2 separate regions of the Homo sapiens genome follow, and region 2 is linked to region 1. Evidence: fine-mapped expression QTL. A gene starts in region 1. The other region holds a variant in brackets. All regions are shown on one strand. Distances are between the middles of the regions. Region 1 holds the start of TPSG1 (tryptase gamma 1). Region 2 holds the start of LOC124903623 (a long non-coding RNA gene).

What was found. PIP is the estimated chance that this variant, and not a neighbour inherited with it, causes the effect.
Region 2: its variant is fine-mapped to the expression of TPSG1 in sun-exposed skin (GTEx, PIP 0.91).

The regions. Positions count from the first base shown.
Region 1 is chr16:1,222,870-1,228,231 of GRCh38, reverse strand. TPSG1 (tryptase gamma 1) reads left to right here and starts at 2,964. Exons shown (of 6, transcript NM_012467.4): 1 at 2,964-3,025; 2 at 3,604-3,630; 3 at 4,638-4,809; 4 at 5,315-5,362. The coding sequence starts at 2,980. It overlaps LOC124903621, which reads right to left and starts at 2,981. Exons shown (of 2, transcript XM_047434997.1): 1 at 2,671-2,981; 2 at 992-1,778. The coding sequence starts at 2,981. The coding sequence ends at 992. RefSeq lists a silencer at 3,926-4,112.
Region 2 is chr16:1,196,765-1,202,126 of GRCh38, reverse strand. CACNA1H (calcium voltage-gated channel subunit alpha1 H) reads right to left here. Exons shown (of 35, transcript NM_021098.3): 6 at 3,353-3,512; 7 at 1,556-1,871; 8 at 1,319-1,411; 9 at 1-464. It overlaps LOC124903623 (a long non-coding RNA gene), which reads left to right and starts at 416. Exons shown (of 3, transcript XR_007064938.1): 1 at 416-483; 2 at 738-795; 3 at 906-1,321. RefSeq lists enhancers at 2,991-3,548, 3,549-4,108. The variant G/A (reference allele first, on the strand shown) is at 2,498.

The DNA.
Region 1 (5,362 bases):
ACAGCCAGTCACCGTGGGACGGGGCCTCCTGGGCAGCCCTGGTCCCCGAGGCTGGCTTCTCCCCACACGATGCATCCAGCATTCGGGTCACACAGAGCCACTCGGGCAACTCAGTTGATTATAAAGGACAGCCAGGTCCCTGCAACCGGGTCAAGACAGAGAATGGTCACCGGGAGCCCCAGGGCTGCCCATCACGAGCCCCTACCCCACGCTTCCCACGAGCTCTTCTCCCGGCCCCTCCGTCCACTGCTTGTGCTTTGCCTAGTTGTTTGCTTTGAGACGGGATCTCGCTGTGTCATCCAGGCTGAAGTGCAGTGGTGTGATCAGGGCTCACTGCAGCCTTAACTCCTGGGCTCAAGCGATCCTCCCATCTTGGCCTCCCATATAGCTGGGCCACAGGAGTGAGCCACCACGCCCAGTTAATTTTTGTATTTTCAGTAGAGATGGGGTTTCGCCATGTTGGCCAGTCTGGTCTCGAACTCCTGACCTCAAGTGATCCGCCCGCCTCGGCCTCCCAAAGTGCTGGGATGACAGGCGTGAGCCACCGCACCCGGCCTGAGTTTGACATTTTCAAATTCATTTTGAGGTCTTTCTCTACATCAATAGGTGAGCCCTCTGCGTCTGGCGAGTGTTGCATTTTATCCCGGGCTCTTGTTTGCATTTTATATTTGAACATGATTACACTCAGGAATGAAATGCGGGGCTGTTCTGGTTGAAAACAACTCTCTAAAGAAACATTCACTCTTTCCTTCCAACTGTTAGATGCAGAGATGTGCATTTAGTCTCCCGAATCTCTGCAAATGACCTCTGTCCTCACAAGGGGTGGACTCAACTCCCAGTGCCCTCTCCAGCCCCACGTGACCTCTGCCTCTGCAGCCCCTGAAGGCCCATCCCTCGGCTCCTGTTCTGCAGGCCCAGCGTCTTGTTAATGAAGATGGACCTGGAACTCGGGCCCTTCTTCCTCCCTCTGGCCCATCCCACCTTCTAGGGATCACAGAGACAGCACGGGGTGACCCCCAGGGAACACTGAGCCCCTAGAAGCACTTCCACACGCCCACTGGAGGTTTTGCGGGGTGGGAGTCGGAGGGATGAGACCCCGAAGGGAAGCAAGACGGCCCCTCAGGACAGGGCTGCCGGTGTAAGGAAAGGTGGACAGCAGGGGCCGGTCACTGGGTGGAGGGGGAGGGCGGGCTCCAGCCCCAGAGCTTCCCAAATTAGATCTAAGATCCCTGGGAAGCTCAGTGAAGCTCAGCCCAGTGACACTGGCAGATGTGAGCGTCAGCTTCAGCAGGAAGGGTCTCTCAGGACGTGGCAGGCAGGCTGCTGGCCAGGGCTGCAGCCACCTGCGTTTTGACTGGGACGGGGGCACCTGCTCCAAGGTCACCCACGTGGCTGCCGGCAGGAGGCCCTGGTTCCCCGTCACAGGGGGGTGTGAGGCGGAGGGCGAGTGGGGGGGACAGGGTTCCCACCGAGGGGACGGCACCCAGGTGGCCAGGCCACCGCAGACAGAAGCAATCCCAGGTCTCCCAGGGTCCTGGACAACAGGAGACCCCACCAAGCTGGGGGCAATCACCAGGGCCAGGCCCCCCTCCCGGTTCCTCAGTTGGCTCTCCTGTCCAATGGTGGGGGTGAACGGCACCATGTCACAGGACTGCTGGGGCTCAGGGGATGGTGCCTGAAGCTTCTTCCTCCCCAGCAGGCCTGCAATCTGGGTCGTGTGGAGCACTCTGCGGGGAGTGGCGTGCTGGGGCACAGGCAGAAAGACGGGGTCCCCAGTGCTGCAGGTGAATTGAGTTGGGACAGGTGAGGGCCCTGAAGTCCCCACCTGTGGGGACCTGGGGACAGCCCTAGAGGTCAGGACTAGAGGACCTGGTTCCATGAAGACCCTGCCCCTCAGGCTCCCTCCCCACTGGGTGACATCGCCCTGTTAGGGGCACCCTGGGCCGGGGACTCGTGGCTCAGACCCCGCTCCCTTGTGTGGGGTGGGACTGTCCTGCCTCCCCTGAGGCGCCCCCTCCAGGTGTGCGGCTGCCGTGAGGGAGGAGGGTGCCCGGCCGTGGGTGCACTGCTGGCCCCGCATGCTGGTGTTGTCCTTATTGGTCACCAGGAAAAACACTGAACCTCCAGTTCTGAGCCTTGGCTACCCCACGTGCTGGCGTGCAGGCGGCCACGTCTGTGCCTGGGAGGCCACATCCTGGTGGGTGGTCAGGCAACTCCCCCCAACCCGTGGCTGAGTTTCCCCACATCAAAGAGGGGATCCCTGACCTAGAAGGTCTCAGCTGGACCCTCCAGCCTGGCCTGTGATTTGGATCTGGGGAGGGCGGCAGGAAAGTCCCGGGCGCTGCCCAGGGCCCCTAATCAGCTGAGTCATCAGGCTGGGGCAGCCAGGACGGTTAGGAAGGGCCAACCCAGGCTGGGCCGTGAAGTGGTGCCCATCTGATCTGCCGCACGAGCACAGGACCTGCTGCCGGACGTGGGGACAGGGACTTCTCAAAGAGTGGTTGTCACGAGGGCCTGAGCTGTCTCCAAAGGGCTGCTGGGCCTTGAGTTGGGACCCTCCTGAAGAACCCCCAGGACTGGGCTCCCAGAGGATGAAGGAGAGGGGGTGGCGTGCCCCGAGGGAACCAGGGAGTAATTTTTGGAGGGGGCGGCACTCAGAGGAACACTCACCCCTCCCTCAGCCCTGGCCCCGGAGCAGAGACAAGGTGAGAAGTACTTTTGCCTTCTGTCCTTCCCCGCTTTCCCTTGACGGAGCCGGCCACTTGGTGCCAGGGCTGTGGCGTCCACACAGGGATAAATGGAGGTGACGACCCTTCTCTGAGGTGCAGAAGGAACAGGTGGGGCCGTCTGTGGAGCTCCGGCCTCCTCCTCCGTCCTCCCGCCCTGCCTGACAGCAGGTGTGTGGCCACCCCTATCCCCCACGCCCAGCAGGTCCAAGGGTCAGGCTGGCCCTCCTTCTCCCTACAGTGGGCAGACACCATGGCCCTTGGGGCCTGTGGCCTCCTGCTGCTCCTGGCTGTGCCCGGTGGGTGACCTGGCCTGGGTGTGGGGATGGGGGGGCATCTGCTTCCTGCCTGGACCCCTGATGGGGGTGAAACTGGGGGCTGGTCTGAGACGGAGAAACATGCTGAGTCCCCACCCTGTGGGGCCCCGTGTCTCCTCTGAAGAGACTGCACCCCTGGCTGGAGGCCCAGCTGTCCGTGCTGGGGAGAGGCAGGAGGGATGTGCGGGTGGGAGTTGGGGGTGCAGGAGTTGGCAGGGCGGGTGGTAGTTGGGGGTGCGGGTGGGAGTTGGGGGTGCCAGGAGTCCCAGGCCCTAGAACACTGGTGATTTCTTTCCTGAGCAGGACCTGGAGGGCGGGGAGGAGGCCCAGGCCTGAGGCCAAGCTCCCGGCCTCCAGCTGCCGTTTATGGCCTGTGGCTTGTCCCACCCAGCCCTGGGCCAGTGAGACAGCAGTTGACCCAGCCTCACCAGGCCGGGCCCCTCTGCTCAGGACCAGGCCCCACCCCAGTGCCGCCCTGAGGCCTGGCAGGGGCCTCTGGAGCCCGCACACCCCTCTCCTTGGCAGCCCCCTCCATCCTGGGCCCTTCGTCTTTCCCACAGGTGTGTCCCTCAGGACTTTGCAGCCAGGTACGTCTCTGACAGGTGTGGGGTGTGGGGGAGGGTGCAGGCAAGGCCTGGCAGGAGGGCCTCGGTGACCCTCTCCTTCCCTGGGGTCCCAATGGGGGCCCGGGGAGGTCATAGTTTGTCGCCGTGGTTTCTGCTCGCATCTCTCGGTTGAGTGGGGCTGGTCGGGGTGTGCTGCAGGGCTGTCTCCCCCACCACCACTGTAGTCAGTCTGTACCTTGGGAGATGCTCTGAGGCCATGAAACAACCTGGCCCTCCTCGAACTTTCTCCCCACAGCGTCCCCACCGTGGCCCTGGAACCAGCTGGGGGCTTTGCCGTGTGGGAGAGCCGGTGCCCCACCCCACACCCGCTGCCTATCTATAAACATCTCTGTCTGTCTACATCCCAGCTTCCCTTCCATTCAGCCCAGTGGCCACACTCCATCACCAGCACAATTATCCAGCTCAGGCAGACCCAGGTGTGGCCAGTGGGTCTCCAGCTGACTTCCTCTTAATTTCTTCTTAACTTACTGAGGTGAAGTTTACAGAAGATAAAGTTACATTATCAAGCGTCCAATTCAGAGGCCCCGAGCACCTTGGACAGTGCTGTCTGCCCCCCGCCCCCCGAATTTTATCCAGCTTCGAATATCTCCACCACCCCTGAAGGAAAACCGGGGCCCACTAGGCAGCCACCCCCAGCACCCCGGGCCTTCTCGGGGGCTCCACCGTTCTGAGCCCCTTTCTAGCCGCCTAGGGGCCCTCTGCAGCCTTTCCACCGCCTCCGGGAGCCCTGGTTAGTTTGTGGAGCATGGTGCTTAGAAAGGACGACCTGAGCCCCAGGCGCGCTCACTGCTCCTGAGACGTCATTTCTGCTGCACCCACGATGCTTCTGGGGAGAGTCTGGCAGACGAGAGAGCTGAAGAGCAAAGTCCCCAAGAAGGCAGGGAGGTGTGGTCAGGGAAGGCTTCATGGAGGAAGTGCAGTGGGTTTCTTGGGATCCCCACCAGGCACCCCTTCCTCCTTCGACTTAGGGTGTGGCCGGCCGCAGGTTTCGGATGCAGGCGGCCGGATCGTGGGGGGTCACGCTGCCCCGGCCGGCGCATGGCCATGGCAGGCCAGCCTCCGCCTGCGGAGGGTGCACGTGTGCGGCGGGTCACTGCTCAGCCCCCAGTGGGTGCTCACAGCTGCCCACTGCTTCTCCGGGTGAGTGTCCGGGTGGGCAGGGGCAGTCTCAATGTCCAGGCCCCAGTGGGGCATGCGCCAGCGCAGAGGCCTCCACTTGGTCTTGACTCACTCCGAGGCTTGGGAACTCTGAGCCTACTTCCTTCCAATGGAAAGGGAGGAGCTGGTTGCCCACCTTCTGTGAGGTTCTGCAGCTCTTTGCTCACCTCTAGGGATGGACAGCTCCCTCCCTCCTTCCCTCCCCTCGGTCTCTTCACGTGGAGCTGAGCTTGCAATCTGCCTCCTGACCAGCCCCTGCTGGTGTCGGGCATGCTGCTGGCTTTTCCAGGGGCTGGCAGGAACCCCAAGGTGCTGCCGTGGTCCTTGGGCCCTGCAGGGTGAGGCCACTGCCCAGGCTTTCTGCGTCCCAAGCCTAGGAGGGAAGAGCTGGGCTTCGGATGCCTGCAAGGGTAGGGTCTGGGCGGGGCCGACACTGACCTCCAGCCTCCGCAGCTGGCCCCTCTCACCCAGCCACCTTCCCTCCCAGGTCCCTGAACTCATCCGACTACCAGGTGCACCTGGGGGAACTGGAGAT
Region 2 (5,362 bases), 26 kb after region 1:
GGCGAGGGGGGCGCGCCAGCTCGGACCAGCCTGGTGTCGCAGGCGCCTGGCTCGGGGCCGGGCCTGCGGGGGCTGCCATGGCTGAAATGGTAGTGGTGGTGGTGGTGGTGATGGTGGTGGTAGACCAGGTGGTGCACCGAGGCTGTGTGCCTGCCTGCCCGGCGCTGGCGGTGCCCGGGACCCTGGCCTTGCACAGCACTGGGGTCCACCTTCTTGCGCCAGCGGCTCTGCCAGCGGGCGTAGAGGCGCAAGCTGCGCCGCTTGACCTTGCGGAATATGTGGCCCACGTACTTCAGCAGCTCTTCGTAGCAGCTGCCAGGCTCGGAGAAGCTGGCCAGCGTGCTGTCGTTGGACAGGTGGCGTGCCCGCTGCTCCCGCATCAGCTGACTCTCCCGCTGCTTCGTCTCCGAGAACTGCGTGGCAATCACCACCAGGCACAGGTTGATCATGAAGAAGGAGCCCACCTGTGACGGGGGCGGGCGGGTAAGTGGCAGTGAGTGAGCGAGTCTCTGATTCGCCACTGAGCCCTACTGTGCGCTGCCTGTTCGAGTGGGGGCCGCGTCACAGGCACAGTGGGCGAGGTGCCCTGCTATGGGCAGGCTGCTGCGGTGTTCAGTGCTGAGCCCCCACGTCTGGAGCAGACGGCATACAGTAGCTGCTTTGTGCCTATCTGGACAAAAGACCTGGAACCCTCTTTCCTGCTTCTCCATGTGGCTCGGCCCCTCCTTTACCTGCAGATCTGGCCTTGAGATGACCCTCTCAACGGTGGCCACTCTCCCCTCCCCAGCACCCCAGGTGCGTTTCCTCCTTAGCATGGACCAGCGTGCAGCAAGTCTCTAATCGTTCGCTTCGCTTGCTCTCTCAGAACAAGCTGGGGACGTCTGTCTGCTTCTGTTACCTACTAGGTCCCCGCAGGGTGGCTCTAGGTATACCTAGGACCCCACAGACGTCTGCGGCCTGATTAACCCAACTCTGCCAGGACCCACTGGGGCCTATGAGAGGACCAGCTAAGGAGCACACCTGGGGCCACACACGCCCGTGGAAAGCGGTGCTGGGAGGCTATGCACTCCCCAGGGTGTTCCTGGCTCTTCAGCCCTGAGCCAGCACCCACAGGCCTGGACCCTGTCTAGGTGATGCCATGGCCTCTTGGGGTCCCCAGCCACACCTCCCCACCCCCGCAAGCTCTGCCTCCCTCCCCTGTGTGCTCCCTTCAGCTGGAAGACAGACAGGAGCCCCTATGACCACCCAGGTACCCCACCCCACCCCCAGCCAGCTAACACCAGGGCCCATCATGGCGAACACTGCCGCCCACACTCACGATGATGAGCAGGATGAAATAGATGAAGTTGTAGAATGAGTGGGCGTCCATGACGTAGTACATGATGTCCACCCAGCCTTCCAGCGTGATCACCTGGGGGGGCAGTGGCTTGACTTGGGCCCGCACGACCCCTCCTCCTCCTCCCCGTGCCCCTGGGGTCTGGGCTGGGGGGGGCGAGTCCTGCACCCGCTCCCCTGCCGTGCCCCAGGGTCCCCGTCCCACCATCTTGCCGCCCACCTGGAAGATGGCAATCCAGGCGTAGCCGATGTTGTCGAAGTTGATGGCACCGTTGTGGGGGTTGGAGTCACCCGAGCGGCACACGTTGTAGTACTGGTTCCAGTTGATGCAGGCGTTGCGTGCAGCGCCCACCCCCTCGGCCTGCGGCTGCGTGTAGGCCTCCCAGCCCAGGGTGCAGGGCATGCGCAGCTCGCGGCGGCCGGGGATGTGCGAGCACTTCTGCATGCCGTTGTCTCGGCGTGAGGAGCAGATGAACGGGTTCTCCTCGCCCTCCTCCGTCTGGTAGTACGGCCGCAGGAAGGTCAGGTTGTTGTTCCTGGGGATGGGCACAGCCAGGGCCAAAAGGTACAATCAGGGTCAGGGACGGTCAGAGTCGGGGGCACGATTGTGATCAGGGACGTGATCAAGGTCAGGGACGTGATCAGGGTCAGGGCCAGTGGACTAATCATGGTTAGGGAGGCACGGTTAGGGTCAGGGGGCATGATAGGACTGAGGGTCAAGACCCGGATCAGGGGACACAGCCAGGACCAGGGTCAAGAACACAGTGGTGCTGCAGAAACCACACTCTCCTCAGCCCAAGTCCACAGAGACAAACACACAAAGAACAGGGATGGACAGAGAAATCAACAAAGAACAGCACAGACAAACAGGGAGGGAGACCCAAGAGCCAGAAACCCAGGCTCAGACCTCAGCAACTCCTGGAAGCGGATGAGGGGCAAAGGGCAAGGGACGAGGGGAGGGAAGCCTGGGGTGAGGGAAAGGAGGCAGCCCTGGGGTGAGGGCTGAGAGGATCCAGGGGTGAGGGCTGAGGGCAGGGAACCCCGGGGTGTGGGCTCAGGGGACCCTGGGGTGAAGGCTGAGGGGAGACTCGGGGGTGAGAATTGAGGGGAGAACCCGGGGTGAGGGTTGAGGGGACCCCGGGGTGAGGGCTGAGGAGAGACT[G/A]CAGAGCAAGGGCCGAGGGGAGACCCTGGGGTAAGGTGTGACGGACTCTGGGGTGTGGGGAGGGGATGAAGTGTTGGGACTAACCTGTCTTGGGGGCTGAGAGGTGGCAGCACTGGGGGTGGGACATATGTGCAATGACCGCACGGTGGGTGGAGCCATGATGGGGGTGGGGCATATATGCAGCGACCGCACGGTGGGCGGAGCCATGATGGGGGTGGGGCATATGTGCAGCGACCGCACCGTGGGCGGAGCCATGATGGGGGTGGGGCATATGTGCAGCGACCGCACGGTGGGCGGAGCCATGATGGGGGTGGGGCATATGTGCAGCGACTGCGCGGTGGGCGGAGCCATGGTGGGGGGTGGGGCATATGTGCAGCGACTGCACGGTGGGCGGAGCCATGATGGGGGTGGGGCATATGTGCAGCGACCGCACGGTGGGTGGAGCCATGATGGGGGTGGGGCATATGTGCAGCGACCGCACGGTGGGCGGAGCCATGATGGGGGTGGGGCATATGTGCAGCGACTGCGTGGTGGGCAGAGCCATGGTGGGGGGTGGGGCATATGTGCAGCGACTGCGCGGTGGGCGGAGCCATGGTGGGGGGTGGGGCATATGTGCAGCGACTGCACCGTGGGCGGAGCCATGTGGGGCGGTGACTGCCAGCTGGGCGGAGCCATGATGGGGGGTGGGGGCGGGAGACAGCATGGTGGACGGAGCCATGACGGGGACAGCAGTGGCGGGGCGGGTGACTGCACGGTGGGCAGAGCCACGTGGGGCGGTGGAGCCACATGGTGCGTTATCTGCATGGTGGGCAGGGCCATCTGGGCAGGGGCCTCACGGGGGTGGGGCCTGGGCACCTGACAAAGGCACTGTCCAGGAAGCAGCGGTTCCGCAGGAGGCCAGCCCAGAGCTGGACGCCAACGATGCCGAAAATGAAGAAGACGAAGAAGCACAGCAGAAGGACGTTCCCGAGCATGGGCAGCGTATCCAGCAGCAGAGTGACCAGGATCCGCATGCCTGTGGGCAGCAGGGCCAGGATTGGCACTGCTAAGCCCTGCAGGAGTGTCCTCGGGGCTGCAGCCCCTCCCGGGACCCCCGAGCCCCGTCCACTGTTCACAGTGGGTGTCCACGCCCACTGCACACTGACTCGGGCCACCCCCTGGTGATTTTCCCGCACCCCTAGTGTGATCGGGACTCCCCTCCTACCACCACCGGCCTCCAGGGACACTGACACCCTGGGGTCTGACGTGCATCCAGCGGGGCGCCAGGTCTCCACCTCCAACCATCCCAGGGCAGCAGGTCTGCTGCTTTTGGAGGGCTGGGGTGTGGAGGGGCAGGAGTGGAGGCAGGGGACTGGCCGAGGCAGGGAACTGGCTGCGGCAGGTCTGACCACGTGGCATCTCGGGCTCGGGATGACCAGGCGGAGCCCAGTGGCCCTCGAGGCTTGTCTGGCGACACCCTGAAGTTGCCACCAAGGCAGCAGGAGCCTTGGGAGCCCCAGAACCTCAGGTGGTGGGCTGCCTCCTGGGGGTCTCTGCAGCAGGTCTGGGATCCTGAAAACTTTGTCTGATTCCCAGTGAGAATCCTGCCAGAACAGAGCCCCATCTCAGAGAGAGGCTGCTGGAGGCGGTGGGGAGGACCGGCAGCGGCTTTTCAGGAGGTAGCACTGAAGCCATCGGTCCTGGGTGCTATGGGCTACGTGAACTCCAGATTAATCCAGCAAGTGGGTCAGCCAAGCCCCACGCGCCCCTCGCTCCATCCTGGGCCTGCTCCCCCAAGACGTCCTTTCCCTCAAATTTAATCAAGGGCCAGGCTAAGGCAGCAGGTAAAGCCCTGGGCCAGGAACCTGGGGACGCTGAGTTCTCACCCAGCACCCAGGGGTATCAATGGCAAAACGGGCCCCTCAGGTCACAAGGGTGAGTCAGAGCCAGGAGGAGCACTGAAGTGTCAAAAGAGCCGACCGGAGCAGACAATCAGTGAGCACTGCCCTGGCCAGACCGCAACCGCCTCAAAGATCACAGATGACCCAGAGGTCAGAGTGGACCCCTAGCCAACAGAACAGGATGCAGCCCTGAGCGTGTCCTCATTATGAGAAGCGTATTATCCAGTCTGGAAGAGTTCCCTAGTTCTCTCCTAGAGACAGGAGCAGATCCCCAGGAGGCCAGGCTGCTGGCGACAATTAGGGCCACTCTGGCAATTTAACCTGAAAAGTAAACATCCATGGAAGGAAGGGGCTGTGTGTGCTGGGTTGCTTCACGCTTCAACAGGTGGGGCCAGGCCGGCGTGCAGACTGAACGTACAGTGGGTGCCGGGCAAAGGGCCAAGAGCCACACACGCGTCCCCTCACCGCACGCTCAGCCACCCTTGGGGTCATGGTTACTCCTGTACTGCACTATTCCAGGAGAAACTGAGGTTCAGGCTCAGCTAGTTGCTCAGAGTCACACAGTATTCAAGCCCTATCTGAGCCACACAGTAGAGCCAAGGCAGGCAGGTGGAAGGCAGGCTCAGGGACCAGCGGCACGAGGATGACCCACCTGCCCTTCGGGAAGCCAGAGGCCCCATGGGAAGGAGTGCCTAGCCTTGGGGGTCTGTGACTTTGGGGGGTTGCTGCAGGTCAAGCCCTGAGTGCCAAGGCCACCAGGACCCAGGTCAGGCAGCCAGAAAGGCTGTGTTACACCCGCACGTGCACACACGGGGCCACATCTACACGCAGTATGCACTCGCGCCTGGTACGGCCTCGTGGGGGCCGCGCCGACCCCCAGGAACCAGAGCAGTTGAATGTAGCCCTGAGTGCTTAAAGAACGATCCCACCCCATCCCCTGATGCAGGTGGGTGGCCCGGATTTGACAGGATGTTTCCCAAACAAG